Linked DNA regions of Homo sapiens. The protein of the gene in region 1 interacts with the protein of each later gene in a biochemical or structural test. Each region holds a gene or a part of one and is shown in the gene's direction. Other genes may lie near its edges.

Evidence for each region.
Region 2: of the proteins of CTDP1 (region 1) and CDK7, one has a biochemical effect on the other in vitro, tested with the Homo sapiens proteins (one study listed by BioGRID).
Region 3: the proteins of CTDP1 (region 1) and INTS6 form a complex in vitro, tested with the Homo sapiens proteins (one study listed by BioGRID).

Annotation. Positions count from the first base shown.
Region 1 is NC_000018.10:79,682,681-79,686,337, forward strand, and holds part of CTDP1 (RNA polymerase II subunit A C-terminal domain phosphatase), read left to right. Parts: intron 1-3,657. UniProt on the Homo sapiens protein: Processively dephosphorylates 'Ser-2' and 'Ser-5' of the heptad repeats YSPTSPS in the C-terminal domain of the largest RNA polymerase II subunit. This promotes the activity of RNA polymerase II.
Region 2 is NC_000005.10:69,237,807-69,241,463, forward strand, and holds part of CDK7 (cyclin-dependent kinase 7), read left to right. Parts: intron 1-3,657. UniProt on the Homo sapiens protein: Serine/threonine kinase involved in cell cycle control and in RNA polymerase II-mediated RNA transcription. Cyclin-dependent kinases (CDKs) are activated by the binding to a cyclin and mediate the progression through the cell cycle.
Region 3 is NC_000013.11:51,360,986-51,363,622, reverse strand, and holds the end of INTS6 (integrator complex subunit 6), read left to right. Parts: 3' UTR 1-1,625; coding exon of another isoform or gene 1,626-1,813; 3' UTR 1,814-2,046; downstream 2,047-2,637. Other genes in the region: SERPINE3 (serpin E3 isoform 2 precursor), read right to left, coding at 1,626-1,813, 2,259-2,345. UniProt on the Homo sapiens protein: Component of the integrator complex, a multiprotein complex that terminates RNA polymerase II (Pol II) transcription in the promoter-proximal region of genes.

The DNA of each region.
Region 1 (3,657 bases):
TGGATCAGTGGGTTCTCCAGGTTGACTGCGGGACCTGAGTATCTGTGGATGTGGAATTTGGTATCTGAAGGAGTCCTGCAGCCCGTCCCCCGTGAGAATGAGGGACTGATTAAATATGGAAGTCTTTCCATAATAGATTGTGCCGCTTTGTGATGAAGTAGAGAATATTGGGCATAATTCCATCCTGATGTTGGAAGGTGATAGGTGTGAGTTTAGTTCTCATCCCTGCGACGCCTCTGGGACGTCGGTTGGTGAAGAGCATCTGCCTTCCTCTAGAGAGCCTGAGTCACTTTCACTTAAAAGGTTTTTCCTCTGTTTTTCTTTTTTTCTCTGATTGCTGGTGTGGTCATTTCCAGCAACAGCTCCGCGGTTCTCTTCTGCGGTGTCCCACCACTTGGAGGCTGGAAGGTGAAGACATCAGGGAAGAGGAACTGCCTTCAACCGTCATTGACTCTGCTCACCAGCCCAGGTGTTTGATTTTTACTAAGCAAGTTCCCAGAATTGCACGTGGGCTGTTTTATAATTGACTTATCTTGACCACCTCTAAAAGTTCTCTTGAAGTTACAGATTCCTGAGATCTTTATCTGGGAGAGCAAGCATTTGGTTGAAGTTTGCTTTAAATGTTTATAGACTGATTATCGTGTATTGATCCTTAGAGTACCCCTTTCAGATTATGCAAATAACACGCACTTGTATAGACAAGCATGGGCAGAATCCACAACTGCTTTTGTGGAGGCTCCAACCCTGGCTTCAGCTCATCTGCGTGTGAGGGCAGGGGAGGTGCAGAATCTGCTCCTGGGCTTGTGCTGAAAGGAGGTCCCTTTTAACAGGGACCTCCCAGCACCAATGGAACCCCGTGGCTCTTGGTGAGAGAGAGCAGGTCCTGCCCAGCTGATGGATCAGAAACTCAGGTGTCAGAAACGGGGTTTCAGGGCGGCTGCCTGAGGAATGCGCAGGCGATCTGACGTTGGAATTCTGGCTTGGGCGAAGCCCTTGATGTGGCCACACAGTTTTGGTCCCTCAAGGGCTTACTGGTTGCCTGCGTGCCCTGGTGGCTCCTTGGTGAGGGGCCTTTGGAGAAAGTCTTGGGAAATCAGATTTCCCGAGGGTGTTGTTGAGGACATTGCTGACGAGGTGTGGGATTTACGGGGAGGACAGCCTGTCTCTTGAGGCTTGGTCGCTGTGTTCACCCTGCAGGTGTTATGAATTAGCTTCTGGCCCAGGACGGTTTTGGGACCGGGGGGTGCCTACCCACTGTTGTTCCTTTATCTTGATCCTTTCACAGGGCTTATAAAAATACTTATTTTTCAGGAATAACGGGAAGTATCTTTGAAAACATAGCATTAAATCTGCTGAACTGGAGCTTGCAGAGAGCAGACAGCGGCAGCAGCCTGAGTGTGCTAAGCTCAAGCGTCGCTTGTGTGCCATCACCTTAGTGAAGGTGGCTCTTGACCCCACTGGCCGCCGGCTGCTTGACAGTAACTTGTTTAGCTGAGACTGTGTTTGAGAAACTGAGAGGTGTGGATGTTGCTTGTACATGTGCAGCCAGCATGCTCACAGTGCCGAGGAGCAGACTACGCGCTGCTCCAGAGCGTAGATTAGAACGTCAGTCTAAACAGTTCTTTATAGCATGGAATTTTAACAAAGAAAGAAGAATCCCACGTGGGTATGTGTGAGTGAGCCTTGTGTAGCTTAGTGTCGGTTACTGAGGCGGAGCACTGCGGAGAGAGGTAATGGAACCTGTGGCCCTGTGAAACCTCCCTCTATAAATAGCAGGTGTGAGTGAACCTGTGAAAAGCACCAGCACCAGCCAGGCAGGGTGGGTCCGTGCCCTCGTTGCCTGCATTGTTGTCACCAGGCAAGGTGGGTCCCTGCTCTTGTTACCTTCATTGTTGTCACCAGGCAAGGTGGGTCCGTGCCCTCGTTGCCTGCGTTGTTGTCACCAGGCAAGGTGGGTCCGTGCCCTCGTTGCCTGCATTGTTGTTACCAGCAACATTTATCCTAACCACATCAGTGGTTATTTTTAGACAAAGAACCATTCTGGGAACTTAAAAACACTGCATTTGGGTGAAGTTACAATAGTCACTAGATTGTCGTTTTGATCTTTAATAAGATTGTATGTTTTTGTCGGGCTTCATCCTATCTGGCAGAAGTAAGAACCTCCTCACTCCATTGGAAAGAAACTGAGGTTCCAAGAAGTTTGGACCTGCCCTGCCCCTTACAGGGTGTGAGGTCCTGGTGAGGAGGACGGTGCAGGGACCTCGTGGTCTCTACTCCCGGTTTCTCTGCGGTGCTCCTTACGGGGTGTGAGGTCCTGGTGAGGAGGACGGTGCAGGGACCTCGTGGTCTCTACTCCCAGTTTCTCTGCGGTGCTCCTTACGGGGTGTGAGGTCCTGGTGAGGAGGACGGTGCAGATGCCTCGTGGTGTGCTCAGGCCCTTGAGAGAGCCTCTGTCCTTGGTTCTCTGCGTGCTGCTCTCTGTAGACCAGGTTTCAGCCCTGGAGATTCCTAGTGTGGGGGGAGTAGCTAGAACAATAGTGTTTGTCTGCTTTTATAATATTTATGTGGAGTACAATTATTTTAATAGAAAATATTCTGACAGGTCACCATCTTTCAGAAACTAAGTCTTTTTTTTCCTGCAGATTTCTTTGCTTTGGCTTTTTCCCAGTCACTCACAGGGAGGTATTTAAATCGCCACAGAAAGGGGAAGGTACCTAAAATGATCTGGGAGCCTGCAGTGACTGGTGAGAACTAACAGGCGGAGGCCGTGTGCGAGGGTTGATGACGTCTGACAGACTGTACCTGTGCCTTTAGCGTGTCCACAGGAAGGGCATCTGCATTCACCAGCGCAGGGTGTGAGAGTGCCACAGAGAAGCAGAAAAACATTGCTGAATAAAATGAAGATCATTCCAACAGCAACGGTATTGCTGTCTTTATTGCTTTGTAGATTTTGGAATGAGAATCTCTGAGAAATAGTAATACAGTTAGAATAGGCTGCAACCTAAGATTAGTCCCCGAATTTATTGTTCTGTGATGAGGGAGTAGAAGCCTCTGAAATTCTAAATGTGCTTCAGTCAGTGCACGAACGTCGTCACCTAAGGGTCCGGTCCTGGAAATAAGGACATTTCGTTTTCATCCTGGTACCAAGAATCTTGATGAATTGGTAATTCTTTTAGAATAGTTTTATTATTAACAATTCTAATAATTATTTAGAATACTTTTATTCTTCCCTGTTGACGCCTGCACTATTTAAAGGATGATACTTTAAAAAAGATATTTGTGCCTAAAATTTGGGGGGCTGTCACTTTGTCAGCCCATTAAACGTGGGTAAGTTGCACTTCAAACGTTTTGCTTTGTTTTTCCCACTTTTCACCTAACAGAAAACCACTGGGCCTTGTTACTTGCTTGGTTTTGTTCGTCTGTGATTTACCTTTGTCATGGGTTTTTAGGTATCTCCGATCTAATCTTTTAGATAAAGGACTTTGAAGCACGTCTGCCTGGAAATGGTTTGTAGGTTTCAGAAATTTTGTGTGCATTATCAGATTTGTCTCCATTTTCATGGTTTCTTTAAAGTTAGTTTTAAAGTGGGTTATGTGAAATCATCTAGTATCTGGGTACAGAGGAATGGATGAATTCTCAGTTTTATGTGTGTTTTAA
Region 2 (3,657 bases), on another chromosome or scaffold:
CAGGCATGGTGCCCCTGCTAGTCTCCTGGCCTCAAGTGATTGTCCTTGCCTAGGCCTCCCTAATTGCTGGGATTACACGTGTGAGTCACTATGCCTGGCCTATTTCTTGAGGTGTTTTTTCTCCCCCAGTTTTAGACGTTGTCTATACTTTCTACTATGAACATTGAGGATTTGGTGTTGTAGACCTTATTCCAACACTCATAATTTCTACTCCCGTTCATTTGCTAGGATGTGTTTAATTTTATAAAAAGGGAAGGAATCAATAAATAAGTTACTCTGTACTCATTCACCTGTTGAGTCTTGGACTTTAGAAATACTGATGTATCTCATCCTTTTAAAAAGATTATGTGGAATTTGTTTCCCAATTTATTTAACCAATCACCTATTGATGGCCTTTTGGGTTATATCTCATTTTTCAGTGTGTGTCTTAAATCTGTGTATCTCAAAACAATATATAGTATTGCATACTTTTTTTTTCCTTTTTTTTTTTTTTTGAGACAGCAACTTGCTGTGTGTTTCCCTGGCTGGAGTGTAGTGGTACAATCATAGCTCACTGAAGCCTTGACCTCCTGGTCTCAAGCATTCCATCTGCTTCAGCCTCCCAACCAGCTAGGAGTACAGGTGCATGCCACCGTGCCCCACTAAATTTGTTGTTCTTCTTGTAGAGACAGGGTCTCACTCTGTTGACTAGACTGGTCTTCAACTCCTGGGCTCAAGTGAACCTTCCACCTTAGCCTCCCAAAGTGCTGAGATTACAGGTGTGAGCCCCTGTACTCAGCCAGTATTGCATACTTTAAGCTATATATGTATATTTGGCATATTCTTCTGCAACTTGTTATTCTTTTTTTTTTATTTTATTTTTTTTTTTGAGACAAGGTCCCACTCTGTCGCACAGGCTGGAGTGCAGTGGCGTGATCTCGGCTCACTGCAACCTCCACCTCCCCAGGCTCAAGCAGTTCTCCTGCCGCAGCCTCTCAACTGCTGACCTCAACTGATCTGCCCACCTCGGCCTCCCAAAGTGCTGAGATTACAGGCTTGAGCCACCACACCCAGCCTGCAACTTGTTATTCTGAGTCAACATTATTTCCGAAATCCTCTATATCGTATGATACATGTAGATCCAGTTGATTCATGCTCGTTGATTATTAGATTCCATTATATGACTACACTGAAATTTTCTATCCAAACTCTCGTTGATAAACATTTAGGCTGCTTTTTAATGTTTTCCTTTAATACATTCCTTCTCTGGATAGTCATCTGTGAGTCATCTTGTATGCAGGTTTGAGTTTCTCTAGAGAATGTATCTATAATTGAAACAAATTATGAATTGATGCTTCAGAGTATCACAACCATCAGCTTTACCAGATATGGTCAAATTGCTCTCCAGAATGATTGGACCAGTTTACTGTCCCACCACATTCTCAACATCATTTGCATTGTCAGACTTTAAAACGTTTGTCAATTACGTAGATTGAAAATGGTATGTACTTATTGTTTCAATTAACATTTCTCTGATTACTGGTAAAGTTCATCATCTTTTCTTACACTTACTGGCTTCTTAGATTTTCTCCTGTTTTCTGTTGGATTACGTACTTTTTTTGTCCTATTGATTTATTGGACTTATTCATACTTTTTGTTTTTTTTAATAGAGACAAGGTTTCACTTTGTTGTCCAGTCTGGTATCAAACTCCTGGCCTTAAGCAATCCTCCAGCATCGGCCTCCCAAAGAGCTGGGATTACAGGTGTGAACCACAGCAACCAGCCAGAATTCTTTTATATTCTGGATATTGATCCTTTGTCAGAAATACACATTGCATATATCATTTCCCAGTCTTTGGCAAGGCTTTTAGTTTATTTATGGTATCTTTGAGGTACTGAAAGTTAAATTTTAATATGATTGAATTTGTTAATTTTTTTGAAATCTTTAAAGGCTTCCTTTTTATGTGCTTTCCTGTTTCTGGATTACAAAGAATTCTGTACTTGTAAAATTTTTAAAATATTGATTTTAATACTTAGATCTTTATTCCATCAACAAGTTTTTCCTTTGTTGTATGATATGAGGATCCAGTATTTTTTTTTTTTTTCAATAGAGACAGGGTCTTTCTATATTGGCCAGGCTGGTCTTGAACTCCTGGCCTCAAGCCATCCTCCTGCCTCAGTCTCCCAAAGTGCTTGGATTACAGGCATGAGACACTGTGCCTGGCTAAGATTGAGTATTTTTTCTTCAGTTGTCCCAGTACTATTAATAGTCTGTCCTTTTCCCAATGAGTTGTAATGCCAAATTCCCCATACCCTTGCAATACCAAGTTCCAGTATTGGAACTTGGGTCCAATTTCTGGGCACACTATTCTGTTCCAGTGGTGGGTTTGTTTGTTTTTTTTCCCATTGCTGTTGAAATATTACAGTGACTTTAAGAAGTCTTAAAATCTGTCAACTTCCATACACCTTGTTTTTCTTCTTCAAAATCATTTTGGCTACTCTATGAGACAGTTGGGAAATGTGAATCAGGAAAATTTGAATAGGAACTAGATATTAGATGCTACTGTGGCATTATTGTTAATTTTGTTAGGTGTCAAAATGGCATGGTTATGTAAGAATGTCTGTATTTTAGAGATGCTTACTTAAGTACGTTGGAGTGAAATGACATGAAGTCTGGGGTTTTAAAATATTTTAGGCAACAAAAAGGAGAGGTTGGATGAATGAAGTAAGTGTGGCAAAATATTGGTCACTGTTGAATCTGGGTGATGGAGTAGAGGGCTTTATGAAATTACTCTATTTTTTATTATGTGGGAAAATGTTAAGAATTTTAAAATCAACTGTTCTTAGCTCCTTCCTTTTTTGAGACGGAGTCTCCCTCTGTCGCCAGGCTGGAGTGCAATGGCGCGATCTCGGCTCACTGCAACCCCCGCCTCCCAGGTTCAAGCAGTTCTCCTGCCTCAGCCTCCCGAGTAGCTGGGATTACAGACACATGCCACCACACCCAGCTAATTTTTTGTATTTTTAGTAGAGACGGGGTTTCCATGTTGACCAGGATGGTCTCTATCTCCTGACCTCAAGTGATCTGCCTGCCTTGGCCTCCCAAAGTGCTGGGATTACAGGTGTGAGCCACCGCACCTGGCCTCTTTTATTTTTGAATGGTACTCTTTGTGTATATGCACCACATTTTCTTTATTCATTCATTTGTTGACAGACGCATAGATTGCCTCCAAATCTTGGCTATTCTGAATAGTGCTGCAATAAACATGGGAGTTCAGATATCTCTTGGACATACAGATTCTGTTGGCATATATACATAGCAATGGAATTGCTAGATCAAATGATAGTTCTATTTTTAGTTTTTTGAGGAACCTCCAAACTGTCCTCCATAGTGGTTGTACTAATTTACATTCCCACCAACAATGTACCTAGGGTTCCCTTTTCTCCACATCCCTCACCAGGATTCATCCTTATCTTTTGGATAAAAGCCATTTAAACTTAGGTGAGATGCTCTCTCATTGTAGGTTTTTTCTTTTTTTTTTTTTTTTTTTTTTTTGAGACGGAGTCTTGCTCTGTCACCCAGGCTGGAGTGCAGTGGCGCAATCTCGGTTTACTGCAACCTCCGCCTCCTGGGTTCAAGCAATTCTCCTGCCTCAGCCTCCTGAGTAGCTGGGATTACAG
Region 3 (2,637 bases), on another chromosome or scaffold:
AATACATCTAGGGGAAACATCATGTCTTTTAGGCCCTTTATGTCACTGAATGACTTAAGGCTCGACAAATGATATTCTTGGAAAGTTTAATCTTGAGGTTTTCAAATCTTTTTTTTTAATGTCTCCCATGTTTCTCATTTGCTGATTGATTCATTAGTTGCTCTTAGTAAGATTTGTCAGTTGGAAATAATGAAGGCTGAGACTCATTTCTAAACTCTTCCATAACCATCACCAGAAGAGCAGCCACTGTGTTGTGTGATGTAGGCTAATGCCTCCCAGATAGAGGTAAAGTCACAAGGACTATTAGAATTCCAGTGGATTGTGGAACTGGTTTTGGATTATCCTTATATTTTCATTCTGATTACTGAGGCAGTTCTGAAAACTCCTACCATTGAAATAGTGGTGTGTCTTTTCCTTGTTTAAGGATTTTACATCATTTTTATGCACTTGAATTCCAAAATCAGAATCTCTCTTTTACCTATCAACCTTTATTGGCTATTGGCTTTTGGCAATGACCTTTCTGTTCAAATGTAGTCCTGTCTCTTTGTTTCCTTAGGGAGTAGAACCTGTCCTTTTTCTCATCTTTCATTTTTTTGACGTGTCCTTTCTAAGAGAAGGCTCTCTGCCGCCTGTTCTGGGTGATAAGTGATATTTTCATCTAATCGTTATGTGGTTGGGATGATCATGGTGAAATACTAGGAAGACATACTCTGTTGATGGACTTTTTCTCTCCAAATAATCCCAAATAGATTATTTTCTAGTGAATGGTTTATATCTTTCTCGTCACAAAAATGTTCCTTTGATTTCTAGCACAAGGTACAGCAGGATGCAAATGATTCTCAGATAAAATGATGTTGACAGTATTTCCTTAACAATTTATGTAAAACTATGCATAATTTTCATTCTAACTTTTGACATTTTTCTCCATAAATAAAAGTAATGCCTGATGTTTAGTTAAAGTAGATCCACCTTTGCTTGATTTTATTAGTCTTGTTCTATCCTATTTCTTTTTAATACACTGTTTAGACTTGCCAACAACTCTTAACTGAGAATCTCTTTTCCTTCCTAGGCTAAGTAATTGTGAGTGGGGGAGGAAGAACATTAAGAGAAATAATCTAAAGACTTTGTTCAATATTGTCGAAGCCTAAGAATATTTGTGTGTCCTTCTGATGTACTGAGGCTTTGCCGGTACCACACCATCTTTGGATTACCATAAGGTTATGTAGTAGGACTTAAAAGTACTAGGGCAAACATTTGATTTTTGAGAAAGATCAACAGAACAGTATAGAAATCCAGGTGCATTCATTAGAATACTAGGATCACAAGAGGACTACTCTGGTGTACTCTAGTGACCTGAAAAAACTCTAAAATGATAAGAAAGCTAGGGGACAAAGGGAAAAAAGGGCAAGATTTATAATTTATTTTACTTTCATGATTTTTCCAAGTGTCTTCAGAAGTAGAAACCTATAGCATTAAAAAAAAAAATCTACATTAACTATATATGAGCTGAGAGAATGAGAAGGTAAAAAACATGGAGGATAAGTTTCCTTTGTACTTACGAAATAGTCCCCTTTCTTAGGATAGAAGATAGCAACTGGGTAGCTTCTGAAGCACCATAAAAACAGCTAGAAAGAATGCTTATTTTTGAGGGGATAGTGGACAAATGAGCCCTTGTTGCTAGAGAGACACTGATAAATTATCTGAATCCTGTCAAAAAATACTGTAATACCTGTGTTAGGTTCTCTCAGGAAATAGATGAATGGCCGATCTGCTTTAAAAATAGGAATCCGAGACCTTTTCAATAACAACAGAGCTGCAGGAAAGAAAGAAAAATTCCATTGCATTTTCTGTGCATTTTTAAGAAAATAACTATTGGTTATGAAGTAAGTTAATTTTTTAAGAAATCAAAGCATCCTAATGGCATTTGATTGTTTACTGTTGTGATGGGGGTGCAGATGGGAAAATTAAAGAGAAAAGATGCCATTTAGCCAATCCTGTCTCCTGTTTTCAACACATTCCATGGAATAAATTCCTTATTGAAGGTAACTTTCAGAATTATTTTTATGGGATGGATATCTCTTCTTCCCCGTCATTTTTCAAAAACTTTTTGTTTTCTTTAGTGTTCCTTTTTAAAAAATACTACACCACACCTGAACTTGGGGGTTATGGAAAGATTCAGAAGTGTGAAGATTCAACTAGGTAAATTTCAGAAAGGTAGATATGGGTAAGCAGTGTGACTGGGTATTCTCTGAACATACCTGTGGCTCCAGATGCCTTGGTGCCTTCCTCCAAAACTTCAATCTTGGCCTTGTGGATTGCTTCAGAAACATAAAAGCCATCTTGGCCTAACCACAGAAAATGATAAAAATGTGAGTTGCTCATTAACATTTTTCTAACACATTTAGAACACATTCTTTAAAAATGTACTTACAAAATTTATAGTATCCAATGCTGCTTACTGTGTAGCTAGGGAAAGAGTGGAAAATTCTGTTTTTGTTTTTACTGGAGGCTCAGGTAGCTGTTTGGAAAATTCTTAAGACTCAATATGTTACCAAACTTTAATTTGTTATATATATTTAATTTGTTAAAATATGTAATCGCTCCCAAAATAATATTCAGAGCACTGCCCCATTTTTT